Linked DNA regions of Homo sapiens. The protein of the gene in region 1 purifies or fractionates together with the protein of each later gene. This does not show direct contact. Each region holds a gene or a part of one and is shown in the gene's direction. Other genes may lie near its edges.

Region 1 (4,488 bases):
CAGTGAATTTCACCACTAAGACCTTCAATCTCATTGACAAGATTTTAGTCCTAATAGTTAGAGAATGATGTTCTTTTCCTTGGCATTTGGTTTGAGGCTACTTCTCCATGCCCCTTTGGCTCATTCTGGGTCCAGTCCAGTCAGGAGATAGAAACCATACAGTGATTTTTATACAAGGAAAAGTTAAAGAATTGTTATACTTTCATAAAAGAGTAACTATAAGATGTAAGGGGCTGGGCGTGTCAGCTCATGCCTGTAATCTCAGCATTTTAGGAGGCTGAGGCAGGAGCATCACTTGAGGTCAGTGGTTTGTAATCAGCCTGGGTAACATAGCAAGACCCTGTCTCTAGTATATAAAACAAATTAATGAATTAATTAAAAAGATAAGAAAACTGTATTTGGTACCTAGAATTACGGGAAAGTACTCAAAGAAGGACAATTTGAAAGAGAGTTTCTCCCAAAGACTGGGGTTCAGACCTCATTAGAGAAGGCGTGATTGTGCACTTGCCCAAAGCTTCATCACCGAGGAGTGATATCGGAGGCTTCACATTCCATGGGAAATAGACTTTGATAAATTGCTTAGCCAAGTCACTAAACAAACAAGTGAACAACAATGAAAACAAGCTCAGGAGAGGATTCTGTATCTAGAGTTGCTGCAATATATTACCTAAAATGTTAACTTTTCAACAAAAAGAAATTGCAAGTCATGCAAAAAAACAAAAACAAAAAAACAGGAAAATGTGACCTATACACAGGACACAAAGGAGGAACCAGAAACTATGAGAGGGTAGATGAATTAAATCGTCTTATTTCTCCCCTCAATTCTGTTAGGTTTTTTTTTTTCCTTTCTCTTTCTTTTTTCTTTTTTCGAGACAGGGTCTTATTCTGTTACCCAGACTGGAGTGCATTGCAGCCTCCTGGGCTCAATCATCCTCCCATCTCAGCCTCCTGTGTAGCTGGGACTACAGGCACACACCACCACACCCAGCTAATTTTGTATTTTTTTGTGCAGTTAGAGTTTCGCCATGTTGTCCAGGCTGGTCTTTGAACTTCTGGGCTTAGGTGATCAGCCTGCCTCAGTCTCCCAAAGTGCTGGGATTACAAGCACGAGCCATTGTGCTCAGCCCTAATTCTGTCATTTTTAATATGACATGTATCTATAGGAATATTAGAAACCAATGAGTATATGCCTTGGTGTACGTCTGATGGTAAATAGACAAGGGAACATAGACATCAAGGAACATCTAAATTCCATGTTTGTTCTTATCACCATCTTATGCTAAAGAGCAGCTGGATTGATTCCTGGGGCCAAATATTAACCACCTTGTTCACAGCTGTCACTTACAGATGGGTGGGGAAGCATTTCTATCCAGAGCATTATCACTAGGTTCCAGCCTTTTTTCATTCTCTTTTCATCCTTTCACACTTCTCTGGGTATACCTGTTTTTCCTTTTTCTGTGACCTATAGTGAAACATACATAGAATAGAATGGAATTTGGAGGGAATAAACTACATACAGCTGAGATATCTTCTTGGTCTGTTTCACATGATTTAGTAGCTTAGAACATGGTTCAAGTACTGAGCAGTTTATATTGGTCAAGATAGTGTAATGATTAAGACCCAGGAAACAGACTGCTTGGGTTCAGATCCCAAATCTGTCACATTCTTGTGTAATCTTTGGCAAATTACAAGTTTAACCTCTGTGCTTCAATTACCCTCATCTATAAAGTAGGGAGAATTATAGTATTGTAAGGATTAAATGAATTTATACCAGCAAAGTGCTTGGAGCACTGCCTGGCAGGGTTACCACTCAATAAATTAGCCTTTTGACTACAAATGAAGAAATCAACTCATACTGGTTTAAGCTAAAATGGGAATTTTTTTTTTTTTTTGGCTAATGTAAAGAAACGTCTAGGGAAGGAAGAGCTTCAAACATGGTTGGCCTCAGGTACTCAAATGATGTCACCAAGAAATCGCTTTCTATCTTGGTTCCACTTGACTGTGTAGGCTTCATTCTCAGACAGGTTCCTTTATAAGGTTCAGGATGGCCACCAGCAATACAGGGCTTGCTTAGACCCTTCACTGGGTTTAGCAAGCCCAGTGAAATGAAAGTACCTTTCCTAATAGTTCCTGTCAAAGGCCCAGGATTGTGTATCTCATGTTGGGACTTGGATCGCATAGCATTGCTGACGCTGTCAACACAGCTGTCCACATTTGGGTTTTATGCCTAACCCTGACAGTGGGGTCAGCTCTATTTGAACCACCTGGGCTAAGAGTAAGGGAAGAGTCGCCCAAAGGAAAGTTGAGTTGTCATTTCCAGGTGAAGAGGCATTGAATTCTGGACAAGAAAAAAGTCACAGTTCTTTCTATCTGGAGAAATGAGGTTTTTCTGAGAGTTTGTTGGTATTTTTTCTTATGTTTAGGTCTTACCCTCCTTCTTTCTTGGTAGAAGCTATGCTCATTTCATGACTATCTTTTTTCCCAGTTCAGATGGCATCACCTTGACTTGTATTGTCCTAAATATTTTTTTCCTTCCTGCACTCTGACCTGTGACATAGAAAGAGCTTCATAGATATTCTGACCTCAGTTTGTTTTTCTGTTTTAATCTATTCTGACAAGCTTTGTTCTCTGGTCTTAGATTTTAGTTCTCCTAGCTCGATACTTCTTTTTTCTATATTTAGTCATCCATATATCTTCTAGACTTTCTATGTGTCCTCCTTGTTATAGCTTTTAACAGCCCACCTGATAGCAAACTAGCCATCTTACCCTCTTAAAACATCTCTGTTTGGGGGATAAAGCATTTATATTTTGCATATTAAATTACATTTAATGCTGTAACTCAGACTTCCTGTTTTGGAGATTACTACTAAAAACGCAATCACCTTTTAGGAAAGAAATTATTTTGTGATAAATTTATTATTTAAAAAATATTGAATATTGTTGTTTTTGTAAAAGTTGTGTTTCATTTATCCTAATTTATGATTTTTTTTTCTTGTTAAAAGTCAGAGCAACCTCTGTCCTTCCCAGATATGGTCCACCGTGCCTATTTAAAGGACACTTGAGCACCAAAAGTAATGGTAAGTGAGGTGCTTAAAACGGCAGCTTTGTTAGAAGATTGTCTGAGTGTTTCCTTTACTGGCAAATTATATGACATGATGGAAAAATTGTTTCATTTGACGAATATTTGAACTTCATATTATTAATTTTAATGAAATATAGGCGTTCTTGAGATTAGAGAATTTTGGAGTCTATGATTTCAAACTATTATTGTGCCCTGGATGTGGACTTGGCTGTCTCCTGCTCCCAGCTGCTACAGCAGCCCAGCTCTACTTTTGCCAGGAAACTACCCTGATTTAAGGCATACCTGCCTTGTTAAAATGGTGAGTAGCAGGTATTAAAGACGCAAGCACTGAAAAGGAAAAGCTGTGCAGAGAAAAAGAGCACTTGAATAATACATTTCCTATTAGGAGCAAAGGCCTATGGGCCTCTTTATCCAACTGGATTTCTAGGTGCTGTGATATTTTTATATTTTAAAGCTTTCAAGGTACATTTTTAAGGTAGGTTTTAAAATAAATTTTTGTAATTATACCTTAGAAGTATAAGTCTATGTCCTTAGGCAAAATAATTAAAGCCTTATTTTCCTTATTTACAGGAAAAATCTTTGATACTGTTACCTCCAAATGTGGTGGAAGGATCTCATTTTCAGTTGCCTCACTTATTTCTTTGTATTACAGTGTATTTTTTAAAGTTTATGATTGTGGCTATGTATGTATGTAACATATATATGTATGTAACATAGCCATAATGATAAACTTTAAAAACTAAATTTTAAATAAAAAGTTAAAACTAGATTTAAAATATACATACATAGAAATCAGGATAAAGAACAATATGTAAAGTTTGCTAACTTTCTTTTAAAGAATATATATATAGAGCTGGTATAGGTATGGTGGTTTTAAGTATGAGGCTGCCTTGGATCACATGGAAGCTGCATCCTTTATCAGCAGTGTAACCTTGAAGATGTAACTCATATCTCTGTGCCTCAGTTTTCACTTCGATTAAATGATAATAATAATGACTAGATAAGTTTATACATATAAAGAGTTTAGAACAATGCATGGTAAATGGCATTTATTCAGTAAATATTTTTAGTAGTGGCATCAAGCTCGTAATTATTGCATAGGCTTGTATTATGCACAGAGTCTCTGGAAGGATGCATTTAAACAGTAACATAGTATATTTCTGGGAAGGGAGACTAAAGGTCAGGGTAGAGAAATCACTTCTTTTTCAAACTCCATATGCCATTTTAGCTGTTGAATTTTTTTAACCACATTGCGTGTATTACTTCTCAAAAACTGTTTTTAATGTTTAAAAAAGCTTTGCCTATATTTATATTTTATACTTGTGTGTAAGTGCTTAACTATTTCTAAGATTTCTTTTAAACAGTTTGAATGAGGACCAAGGAGTTTAATGTCATGGAATTTCTTT
Region 2 (4,488 bases), on another chromosome or scaffold:
CTTCAGGAGCAGTGGTGGCAGGGGCCAGCTCCAAGAAGACCAGTTCTAAATAGTGCTGTTTGTGTATGCCCAGGGAAGCACCAGGAGCTATGCTACAAACAGGCTGCTTTTGTTTATGATCTTTGGAAAGCATTTCAACAAACTGTTTAATATACATTTGTCTCATCCCCCTGCTGTTGACTATTTGTAGTGGTCTCATTTTGAGTCTAAATTGAAACAATTTTAAATTGGTGTCTATCAGGTTTTTCTTAAAAATTTTCAACAGCTACATGTCCTGTTAGAATATATTTCCCTTTAAAAGAATAAGTTAAACTGAGCAGCTGCTATTCAGACGGTTTGCTGTGCCTGTAAAGGGTATGCTATTCAGCCACCTAGCCATTTAAAAAAAAACAAAAAACCTAGAAGATGCATATTCTGTAAGCATAATGCTTTTCTTCAGTGATTAAACCTCTATTAATATGTGTGTTAATCCTATGAAGTACTATATTTCTACACAGTTAAAATGTATTAGTGGAAAAAATATAAAAGGGATTGTGAAGTGCATTTATTGCTGTAGTAAATTAAGTCCTGGTTAGCTGATTATCAAAACATTATCTGATTTACATTTCTATAGGCTTATGGACATATGAACAGGAAATTAATTTTGGAAGTAGGTTCAGTTGGGTTTTTAAGCTCAGCAAATGAGAAAACCACATCTCTGCTCATATTAACTGCTCTCCATACAGGAGATCATCAAGCATTTGTTGACTTACCCAGTGGATAAAATATTAAAACTTTGAAACCAAGAAACCAAATATGTTGTTTAGGTATTTATCATTTTTATACAGTTAACTCCTTATAGGGATTACTGTGAAAGTGGTTAAGATTTTCTCTAGTTTTATGTTTATTTGCTTAAGCATTTGGCAAGGGCAGCTGTGTGGTCATGTAGCCGACTACTACTCCCAGCCCTTTCCTCTCCCATTGCATTCAGCTCACTCCTACATTCTGTTCTGACCAGGACGGTAGATACTGAGCACCTCAGGGTTTCATTCCCAACTCAGAAGAAACACTGAGTTTTTAAGTCCAGTGACCTACCATAAGTCATATCATAAAATGGGTTTAGTCTAGCCAAGACATCCACCTTTGATCTTTCTGCCTTCCAAAGTTTAAAGAGTATCCTCACCCTGTCATAGTGACAATTTCTCACCTTCATAATATTAAAGTGAGCAGAAACTTGCATTATGCCCTTTGACATAGCCTCATGCGCCGGGACAGGGGGAGGGGATTCCCTTCCCCTGTAATGTAGCTTGCTTATTTATTTATTTGAGATGAATCCTTGTTGCCTCAAGAGTTTTTCCCCCTCAGAGATAATAGCAGTGGCTCTTGATGGATCCATTTGTTGCCGTGGTGATATGCCTACTCCTTTTGTTGGTGCTTCTCTACTTCAATAAGCCCCTTCCTGTTATCAGCCTGGTGAAAATGTCTGCAAGTTCTTCAGAGCTAATAAACAGCATACATCATTCCTTTCATCTGATCACTATAGTGGGGCCTTGTGAGTGAGCGTGAAGTATGAATTGTACAGCTGCACTAATGGAACTCTGAAGAATGAGGCCCGAGTCAGCAGCACAAGTGCATCGGAGGCCGTAACCTTCAACCTTCATCCCAGTTCCAGAGTGCTGGGATGCAGAAGGGACCACAAGTAACTGTACCTTATGTGAACATTAGTATGTTAATACAACTGGGTAGCCTATATTTTAAAATAGAGTTTAGAGCCATTCTAGTCTCTTAGAATGATATTTTTGAAGATAGCCCAGTTGACTGACATTGTCCTGTGCTGGTTCTGTTGTGTTCTTCCTCCTCCAGGAATGAAATGGAAAGGCATTTTCTGGAGCTTCTTCAGTTTAATATTAATGTTCCTGCCAGTGTTTATGCCAAATACTACTTTGACCTTCGCTCCTTAGCAGATGACAACAACCTGAATTTTCTATTTGCTCCTCTTAGCAAAGAAAGAGCACAGAACCTAGAGGTAAGGCTATGAAGTCACTAAGTGAGGTTTTCCATCAGCCACCAAAGCCAACATCTGTGACTAAATCATATTAAGTAGTGATTAGGAAAATGGAAAGCTTTAAAATTAACTAACACTGAAGAGCTTATTAGCCCTTTGGCGTCAGATTTCCTGTGTCTTGTATGGTTTATACAAGGATCAACATTATTTAAAAATTATACATATTAACTCTTCTGTGACCATAATTCAGAATATTTTAAATCAAATTTAATCTGTTGTTAATGAGGTTTCCTTTTGAACTTCTACCCTTTCACATAACCATACATGAATAATTTTTTTAGCTGGGCACTGTGGCTCATGTCTGTAATCCCAGCACTTTGGGAGGCTGAGGTGGGCAGATCACTTGAGGTCAGGAGTTCAAGACCAGCCTGGCGAACATGGTGAAACCCTGTCCCTACTAAAAATACACACACAGGCCGGGCGCGGTGGCTTACGCCTGTAAGCCCAGCACTTTGGGAGGCCGAGGAGGGCAGATCACCTGAGGTTGGGAGTTCAAGACCAGCCTGACCAACATGGAGAAACCCCGTCTCTACTAAAAATACAAAATTAGCCGGCCGTGGTGGCGCATGCCTGTAATCCCAGCTACTCGGGAGGCTGAGGCAGGAGAATCGCTTGAACCCGGGAGGCGGAGGTTGTGGTGAGCTGAAATCGTGCCATTGCACTCCAGCCTGGGCAACAAGAGCGAAACTCCATCTCAAAAAAAAAAAAAAAAAGTACACACACACAAAAATACAGGCATGGGGGTGCATGCCTGTAATCCCAGCTACTTGGGAGGCTGAGGCATGAGCATCGCTTGAACCTGGGAGGCGGAGGTTGCAGTGAGCCAAGATTGCACCGCTGCACTCTAGCCTAGGTGACGGAGTGAGATTGTGTCTCCAAAAAAAAAAAATTTTTTCTTTGCGACTGTATTCCTAATTTTATCTACATACATAATTCACTTGCCACTCTTGACTGTCTTACTTACTGTTTGCAAATTCATGTCATGGTTTATGTATCACAGTGCAGTCCCATGAGTTTTTTAGACAAAGGATTAGTGGATAAGCCAAGAGACCTATACCCTTCACTGTATAGGATGCAGGTGTTTCAAATGCTGGATGTAAGTGGTAGGCATGGTGGCTCACACCTGTAATTCCAGCATTTTGGGAGGCCGAGGCAGGTGGATCACTTGAGATCAGGACTTCAAGACCAGCCTTACCAACACAGAGAAACCCGGTCTCTACTAAAAATTCAAAAATTAGCCGGGCGTGGTGGCAGACGCCCAGTTACTCAGGAGGCTGAGGCATGAGAATTGCTTGAACCCGGGAGGCGGAGGCTGCAGTGAGCCGAGATCATGCCACTGCACTCCAGCCTGGGCGATAGAGCAAGACCCTTGTCTCAAAAAAAAAAAAATAATAATGTAGGAAGTACATGGGTTTTTAATAGAAATGGTAACTTTATGGGGCAAAGTAATATTTATGGCTTATGACTCTTGGTGAGTATACAGCAGAATTACAACTGAAATGGACACATATTTTAAACTAACACTTTCTGTGGTACCTTGGTGGTACTTTAGAATAATATGTATTTCTAGGCTGGGCTCAGTGGCACATGCCTGAGAGTGGCTCATGCCTCAGAGGCTCATTCCTCCCAGCACTTTGGGAGGCCGAGGCAGGCGGGATCACCTGAGGTCAGGAGTTTGAGACCAGCCTGGCCAACATGGTGAAACCCTGTCTCTACTAAAAATACAAAAAATTAGCTGGGTATGGTGGCACATGCCTGTAATCCTAGCTACTTGGGAGGCTGAGGCAGGAGAATCGCTTGAACCTGGGAGATAGAGGTTGCAATGAGCTGAGATCACTCCAGCCTGGGCAACGAGCGAAACTCTGCCTCAAAAAAAAAAAAGAAAAAAATAATAATATGTATTTCTACCATAATTAACGTGCATGTGAAGTAATACCTTTTGGCGCGTCAGTCATCAGACCGCTCATATGTTCCAGTATAGTCCAGCACACACCTGCCTCATTAAAATGTGCTTTGAGTATATAATAGCTAATAAGGATTGGGTAGAATTTGAATAGCTGAATAAACATTTTTTTGCACAAGTGTACGTTTGTTATATTTAAGGAATAAGTTAACAGATAACAGATGCTATTGCTGTTAGGAGCCCTATCACAATACCTTTGATATCTTTGGGAATCCAGTTTTTTAATAATATAATAAATTCCCCTTTGTTCTCTGGGAATCTAACCATAGCCCTTAAAGGATATTACCTTGGTGAACTGTCAGGAAGTAGTGTCCCCACAACCTGGCAGTGTAAAACTCAGCCAAAGTAGCTGTAACTGTGAACTATCTAAAGGAGTCCACATGTGTGGCTTTCACAATGGTGCTCTTTCAAAGGCGGGAACCCTTTTTAAAATTGTACCTGTTTTCTATTTGATTGACTTTCCTAGGCTATTTCTAGATTG
Region 3 (4,488 bases), on another chromosome or scaffold:
TGAAAGTCATGTAGCCAGTAGCTTTTCCATTTCATTGGAAAAACATATTGGAAAAGTAGTAATAGTTTGTCCACTACCTTCAATTTAGTTGTGTTCCCTGGAGGGATAAGAAAATGAAGACTGAATGTCACTGGGCTGTTCAGAGTATGTCTGCACTAGTCTGTGGCTTGGCAGACGGGAGAGGACAGTGGGCAAGTGCAAGGGCATCTCCTCCCTAGGAGAAACCTTCACTACACAGTGGGCAAGGGGCCATCTGGGTCTTTCAGAAGGTTCTGCTTAGGTCCAAAAATGTTACCCTCTTCCCCATCCTACAGACAAAATCATAGAATCCACTTGTGATACATAAAGAAATATATATATATATATATATATATATATATATATACACACATGCCATATATATATAGACATGTATATATTCACCTATATATATTTATATCAGTGTTCTGTGTATTTAAATAATTAGAAACTCACCATTAGCAATTAAGTTCACAATTTAGTTCAGTTAAAGTTTATTAATAGTAGGCCAGGCATGATGGCTCACGCCTGTAATCTCAGTACTTTGGGAGGCCGAGGCAGATGGATCACCTGAGGTCAGGAGTTCGAGACCACCCTGGCCAACATGGTAAAACCCGTCTCTACTAAAAATACAAAAAATTAGCCAGGCATGGTAGCAGGCGCCTGTAATCCCAGCTAGTTAGGAGGCTGAGGCAGGAGAATTGCTTGAACCCGGGAGGCGGAGGTTGCAGTGAGCCGAGATCACACCATCACACTCCAGCCTGGGCAGTAGAATGAAACTCTGTCTGAAAAAACAAACAAACAAAAAAATTATTAAGAGTAATTATCTCAGTCTGCCAGGATTTATAAATATTAATGTCCCAAACTGAAGTTAGGGAGGCCCATTTTTACCTTTTTTTTTTACCTTTTATTTTTATCTCTGTGTAATTGTGTTGGGGGCAAATTTGTCAGTGTCTTCTCTTTTTTAATTAGCAATTGTTTTTCCAAATTCTCAGTAAATAATCCTTCATCAAATTTGTCAGTATTATTAATTTACATTCATTTTTGTCTCTTCGAAATACCAAGTTGGTATGTAGAATTCTTTTGTATTGTAATTGTGGATCAGAATCTGCTGATTAACTTGTTAATATATTTAGGACCTGGTATTCCTAAAGGGCTCATTACTGAACCTCACACTAGTCTTTCTAATATCTTTACAAAAAAATAGAATCAATAATAACTCTAAATTGTCAGGTGGAAAAAACAGTTGGCTTAGTGAACATGAAGTCTTTATTCAGATACATGCAAATGTATTACATTCTTAAGAATGATAATTTTGAGAAACATTTGAACAGCATAATTACTTGCAGAAATATTACTGTAACGAACATCTTTGGGAGTTGTGTGTTAAGGGGTGATATGATGAGGAAACCTGAAACTATATTAGAAAGTGGTGTTATAGATACTAAGATAAGAAATTAAATAAGAGTATAGTCTTTTTACCCATTTAATCATAGTTAATAAGAAAATATATTGCAACTTTCTGAACTGAAATATAAACTCTCTTAGTGATAGACAGCTGTCTTTCAGGTGGTTCCTATAGTTAGACATTACTTCATGCTATATGCCAGACAATCGTTAGTTTGTTGGTTGATGATATTTTCTAATTTCACAATTTCTGTGATGTTTCCCACAGATTGGGTTAAGAATGATTCAGAGTCACACCTATTTTTGACTTTAGTGCGCTCAAATCATTTCCTGTTGACAGGAATCTGATGGAAATGTCATCATAGTGATCAGTCTTCTGGAGAACTGAAGCTGCAAGTTTTCCTGAGTTTGTTCTATGGTGTATATTGATACTGGGATCTGTGTTCTCTGTCTGGCTGTTGCGGAGGCTAGGTCCCATCCACATCCCACTATACTCTCCAGCCTTGACTGATGTACCTACCATTTCATCTGTTAGGTATAATAGCTCTTCATGCATATGACTTTACAGAGAGATTGAATTAAAGTGTATATATACATATATATGAAATAAATATATATATGAAATAAATATATATATTAATGTGAAATAATTGCAGACTGCTAAAATTTAATATAGGGATCACAGAAAGAAAAGTCTCAATTCTTCAGTTGTTTCTATTTATCAATATAACTCTTTAGTCTTACTCTGTTTTTTCAAAAGGGAAATTAAAGAATGAATATGTCACTGAAAATTGTTGGCACAGGCATTTTGGACTAATACTCTCTTGGAGAAAAATAAGAATATTCTCTTGAATCTTATCAGACAGTTCTGTGATATGTCCTAGTGTAACATACATTTCAAAAAGTCTTTAGAGATGGAGTATCCTGTTTCCTCTGCAGCATTTGCTCTCTGTGGAAGGACCAGGCAGTGACACTTTGATTAGAAGCATTCGTGATGCTGAGCTTTTTCTAGTAGACAGAGGAGAGGGGCTCATAAAAAGATCTAAGATGCCTAGTTAAGCTTCTTCCAGATTGTTCCAAATGAACCACATATGAAGGCCACAGGTGAAAGGGTCTAGCAAATTACACTATTGGGATTTTCTGACTGACACTTTTCTACTATTGGGAAAAAAATTATAAAATGTGTTTTCTTTTTTTGGCACTCAGATGAGTATAGGATCAAACCAGTGGAAGAGGTCAAATACATGAAAAATGGGGCAGAAGAAGAGCAGAAAATAGCAGCCAGGAACCAAGAAAACTTGGTAAGAATTGATTTTCTCACTTAACAATGAATTTTGGTGACACTATTGTAATAAAATCTGCACTGCATGTTTTAACTGCAACTTACACACTGGCACAAGATTTCTTGAAAATGCTGCAGCTATTTATAGCTTGCCTGGAAGCTGCACCATTACTCCTGTATCCTGTTTGTCTCTGAATAAGCCCTTCTTTAATCTTGATGGGGAATGCTCCATAAAATATAGCAAAATTATTCGTGTTTTAAAATAGCTAAATTTAAGGGAAAAATAATGAAGTAGGATTGAGGTTTGTGAGGGGAGGATTGTTTTAGTTTTGTTTTTTTCTACCTCTTCTAACTCATATCCAAATCAGGATGAATGGTTGTTTCATTATTCTAGACATGTAATGTTGACAAAGTTGCTTTTCAAAGGAATCAAAGGTCATTTTCAAAGGAAAAGCAACTTACTTCAAGATAAGTCTTTCTCCAGAGAGTCAGTACTTCACATTCACAATATTAAGGGTATTGTGGGTTTTGAGTTTATGTGAGAATTGTGAAGATCTGAAACAGGAAGTTAGGAATCCCTTTTTTGAGTAGGAATCAGTATACACATTCCATCTTAACATCCCATATCTATAAAAACATTTAGCTAATTATAATATAGATGATTTCTTAAAAGCAGTTACAAATTGTTAAGAATATGTATTTAGTTGTATTGGAGCAAAATTGTTTTTGTTGTTTATATTTTATTTTTTGATTACCTATATTTGCTTTTTTCATAACTGAGTTAAAAAGGTATTTTTAAGAAGCTCTCAATGTCATATAATACTTTCACTTGACTTAAACTCGTTTTTTTATAATGTGCTTTGTTTTTGTTTTAATGACTTCTGCTACAGCAGAGGAATTTGGCAGAATATTAAGCAGTGCACAGGAGTATTTAGGGCTGTTATTTTCCATTACACATTTGTGAATATTGGAGGCTGATTCTTTCCCCTAATTCTTTTCTGAATATATGATCTATAACTTGAAATACTGAAGTATCAACAAGTGAATATTTTAGATCATTTTCAAGGAATGAAAATATACTCTAGATAATGAAGTTTTGCTTCATAAATGGGATTTGGATTTTAAAGTATCACTTAAGACACAGAGATTCATCATATCTAGAGTGATAATGTATTTTAACATTAACACTTAAATCCAGGAAAGTAGCTATGACTAAATACTAAAAGTTAATATTACCATACTGCCTACATGGTGTTTATTTTGTTTTGAATGGATAAATCGAAGACCTGAGTATTGAAATATCAGTAGTCATTTTTCTACTTTATTTTACTAAACAACAGAGTTTGTACTTGCTTGATATAGTTTCAGCTTGAGTTATCAATCTCATCCTTAATAATAATATTTACTGTAGAGGCTAGAGAGCTACTTGTGAGTAGTCTGGCAGTGGTTTCTCCTTAAATCTACTAATGTGTGTCTCTGCTTCACATGCTTATGTCTCTAGAACCAAAGAAGCAACACCTTGTATAGTTTGTGAGTTTTTTCTCAGTGTGCTTTCATCATCATATTTAGGACCAGTATAACTTTTTTCCTTCTCTCGCAGTTTTGCAATCTGTCAACTACTTGGTACTTGGTGTATTCTTTTTCAGCATTGTGGTCAGAATCAGACTGAATAGGAATTTGAAAAGAGAAAAATATTTGGTCATTCTGATTTATTTGTGGATTATCTGTGACAAGCCTCGCCCCTTTGCTCTGCCAGCCAGCCAGAGTCCAGGATCCCAGTA
Region 4 (3,881 bases), on another chromosome or scaffold:
TCGGAACGGCAGCGGGGTGGCCTTGGAGCGAAGTGAAGCCAACATCAAGCACGAGCGATGATGACACCAAATCCATGTGTCCACCCTGGGACCCAGGAGGGCACAGCCAAGGAATGAGCCCTGTGGGGTGACGCTTCAGGGCAGAGCTGCCTTTTAATTTTTATTCTCAGAGCATCAGCACTTGAGGCCTTGCCCCACGCCTTCTCTGTGGACCATTCAGGACCTCCAGTGGGGGTGGCGTGCCAGGCGCGTACCCCACCAGGTGGGCAAAGCAGAAACCTGCGGGGAGCGGAGACGCCTTTTATCTCTGGATGCCACAGACCTGAGCAGCATTGGGCTGGCTGTCCGCTGCTGACTGGATGGCAGCACAAAGACAATATGAGCAGAGGGAGGAGAAGAAGGGGTGCTCAGGCTGCGGGCCACAGTCCAGCAGCGCCAGAAGCACTCATTTCTGACCACCAGGCTATGACGTTCCTGCTGCGCATTACAGAAAGCTTTTAACTGTGATCAGGCACTCTGCTCAGATACATTGAGTGGCGATTTTTAGTTTTGTTTTGAAAAAATAAACAGATTAACCTGCCTCGCTGCAGTGAGAGCATGGGACAAGTCCGCCACAGCCCTCCCCCGCCCCCTTCCCCCGCCCCCCAACGCGCAGTGTGTATTTGCACCACGGCAGGTGCCTCTGTGTGGAGCTAGGGTCAAGCCCTGAGCAGCTTCACTTCCCCTGCGCCTTTTATGTCCCCACCTTGAGGCCTTGCAGAGGCGCCTCTCAAGGCCCCATCAGCTCGCCGGGACCTCTGTGAAGCCTCTCTGTCATCTCCCCTTCCCAGCCCCTCCTTCATCCCCTGCCTCCTTCACCAGCCTGGCTTTTGCCTGGAGCACTATTTGTTTAGTTCTCTTTGCAGGACAAGAATTCTCTCAGGGTGGTATCACCTCCTCCCTCCTCCCCACTCACTCCAGTTTTTAGCCCGGAGCCTCCTGTGGTTGACTATCAGGAATGTGTGCTGTGTCAGGATACATAGGAAGTTGACCTCGGGGTATCATGGAGAGTGTCCCTCCTAGTGGCTGGAGGTAGGGACAGTTGGTTGTGGGGCTGGAGAGAGGTTGTGGGGAGGAAGCGAGGATGCGTGCCTGCCACTAGGCATCTGCATCCCCGAGCCCAAGCCAGGAGGGATTTCCCTTAGGCAACACCATCCCAGGGAGATCTGCCACAATTTGCGTTTCACAGCTGAAGACGCTGAGGCTTAGAGAGCTCGACCTCCTCAAGGTCACACCACTGGGTAAATAGAGGGATGCAGACTCAGGTTTTGCTATGTGCTCACATTTCAACTTTATGCTTAACATGAATGGAAAAATATGAAAGTAAATAGTGAAAAGGTAAGTTATGAGCTTAGATTACCTAGATTATTCCAGTATCCCATGGAAGCTGAGGACTTATTCCGCTTTCCACACCGAACACTAAATGTGGACCAGTATCAAGAACCCTCCTGTCCCCACGCAGTGTAAACCCAGTGGCTTCTCTGACCTGGAGCTGATGGGCCGTGAAGGGGGCCTATTTTTCTCCAAAGGCCATCCTTTTGGGGCCACCTGGCTCCAAGAAGCATCGCTGGTCTTGGGGACGGGAAGGGAACCCTCTTCCAGGAGCTCTAAGGGTACTTGGGAATCAATTGTGTCCATTCTGAGGTCTCTCCAGTGGGAGGGCGGCAGCTCCTGTCCCTGGGTTCAGGCTGTGCTTCTGGAAGCATCGAAATGGGATGTCTGAGCCTTGAGGAAAAGCAGCAGGGTTAGCATTAAAGTCAAGAGGGGCAGCTCAGGATGCTACCAGGGAGCACATCGTTTCTGGTGCCTCATCTAAAGGTGAAACCTCCCCTACATTCACCAGCCGGATGTCCCAAATCCCTTTAGCCAGATTGCTTTTTGCAACCAAAGCTGTGGACAGAAAAGCCTCCTTAAGTGAGCTGAGGGGACAGGAAATCCAATCAGATGACCTTTGTGTTCGTAATCGGGCTTGAGCCAGAGGCTGGGGAGCTGAGTCCCAGCCAAACCTCACTGGCCCTTTTGCTTTTCACGCCCAGGGCTCAGTGGCCCAGGAAGTGTGCTGGGCAGCCTGTTCTTACTCCAGCTCAACCCATTGGGTGTTGGCTGTTTTTGGTTTTAGTTGTTGTTTTGTATTTTGTTGTTTTAATTAATAGGCTTTATTTGTAAGAGCAGTTTTATGTTTACAGAAAAATTAGGCACAAAGGGATTCCCATATCCCTCCTCTTCTTTGCATATTTCCCCCTCTAATTAGCATGTTGCATTAGCATGGCACTTTGTTACAACTGATGAACTTGTATTCATTATTAGCTACAGTGTTCATAGTTTATATTAAAGTTCACTCTTTGTGTTGTGCATCCTATGGGTTTTGACAAATGTAGAATGACATGTATCACCATGCTACAGAATCATTCAGAATAGTTCCTCTGATGTAAAAATGCCCTTGTGGTGGGGCATGGTGGCTCGAGCCCGTAATCCCAGCACTTTGGGAGGTGGAGGCGGGCAGATCATTTGAGGTCAGGAGTTCGAGACCAGCTTGACCAACATGGTGAAACCCCATCTCTACTAAAAGTACAAAATTTAGCCAGATGTGGTGGCGCATGCCTGTATTCGCAGCTACTTGGGAGGCTGAAGCACGAGAATTGCTTGAACCTGGGAGGTAGAGGTTGCAGTGAGCTGAGATCATGCCATTGTACTCCAGCCTGGGCAACAAGAGCGAAACTCTGTCTAAAAAAAAATACCCTTGTTCTCCATCTATTCACCCATGCCTCCCTCCCCCTAACCCGTGACAGTCACTGCTCTTTTCACCATCTCCATAGTTTTGTCTTTTCCAGGGTGTCGTTTGGTTGGAATTATAGAGTATGCAGCCTGTTCACGTGAGCTTCTACCCCTAGCCACATGCATTTAAGGTTGCTCTGTGTCTTTCTATGGTCTGATAGCTCCTTTCTTTTTCCTGCTGAGTCATGTTCCGCTGTGTGGAATTGACCTGCCTCCCTTGGATTGTTTCTGTGCCTTCCCCGGAGCTTCCTCTCACCCCAGCCCCAGCTCCACCCACAAATGCGGCATTTCTGAGTCCACCTCTTCCATTCTCCCTCTCCATTCTTTTCTTGCTTCTCCATCTTCCAAGATTGTCTGAGAAGGGGCCTAACTGCGAAGGACTTTGTTGGAGAAGCCAAGGGAAGTCCCCTGCTGCTGAACCGGGGCTGGGAGGGGAAGAAGGGATTAAGTACAAGAAAAGCTCTTCCAGTCCCACAGGCGCTGACTAGGAGCCCACGGCATTCTCCCTGCTCTCCCTATCATAGGAGAACCGCAGGCAGCCAACTGTCCCTTCCACGCCCCAATGGAACCTCTCTCCTCTCCTGCCCATTGTCTACCACAGATCAGAGATGGCTCTTTCTATGCAGGGGTGGGGACCCAGCCATCTCTATCAGCTCTGCCGGCACTGCAGGGGTGACTGACTAGAGGCGGGAAGCCCTCCTGGGCCTCAAATAACTAGGCCCAAGCTTTGACTCCCTCATGGCTGCTCTAGGGACTGCAAGGGAGGACACGGGCTTGGCCTTTCCTAAAGGGCTGCTTTCTTTCAAAGTCAAGGGGATGCTATTTTCTTCTTTGTGTTTCTTTGGTTCTGACATCAGAATTCTCCTCAGTGCAGATAACATTGCCCTCTGGAATGGGTGAGAATCCTAACACCTGGGTTTTCGGTTCTGCCCAGCGTGGCTTAAGTCTCCACCTTAAGTGAATCTCACCTGAGACAGCTACAGGGTTTGTTTTCTGGGGAGAGGAATTAATGACTTGAACAGCACTCACGGGTCTTAAACTTAGCATACAGTTTCAAATAACCCATG

What was found.
Region 2: the proteins of SPATA7 (region 1) and CCNYL1 purify together in Homo sapiens (affinity purification with mass spectrometry; one large-scale study listed by BioGRID and IntAct). This does not show direct contact.
Region 3: the proteins of SPATA7 (region 1) and C1orf21 purify together in Homo sapiens (affinity purification with mass spectrometry; one large-scale study listed by BioGRID and IntAct). This does not show direct contact.
Region 4: the proteins of SPATA7 (region 1) and EEPD1 purify together in Homo sapiens (affinity purification with mass spectrometry; one large-scale study listed by BioGRID and IntAct). This does not show direct contact.

What each region holds. Positions count from the first base shown.
Region 1 is NC_000014.9:88,388,379-88,392,866, forward strand, and holds part of SPATA7 (spermatogenesis-associated protein 7), read left to right. Parts: intron 1-3,002; coding exon 3,003-3,077; intron 3,078-4,488. UniProt on the Homo sapiens protein: Involved in the maintenance of both rod and cone photoreceptor cells.
Region 2 is NC_000002.12:207,749,115-207,753,602, forward strand, and holds part of CCNYL1 (cyclin-Y-like protein 1), read left to right. Parts: intron 1-1,842; coding exon 1,843-2,005; intron 2,006-4,473; coding exon 4,474-4,488. UniProt on the Homo sapiens protein: Key regulator of Wnt signaling implicated in various biological processes including male fertility, embryonic neurogenesis and cortex development. Activates the cyclin-dependent kinase CDK16, and promotes sperm maturation.
Region 3 is NC_000001.11:184,504,957-184,509,444, forward strand, and holds part of C1orf21 (uncharacterized protein C1orf21), read left to right. Parts: intron 1-2,631; coding exon 2,632-2,726; intron 2,727-4,488.
Region 4 is NC_000007.14:36,299,146-36,303,026, forward strand, and holds the end of EEPD1 (endonuclease/exonuclease/phosphatase family domain-containing protein 1), read left to right. Parts: coding exon 1-61; 3' UTR 62-2,393; downstream 2,394-3,881.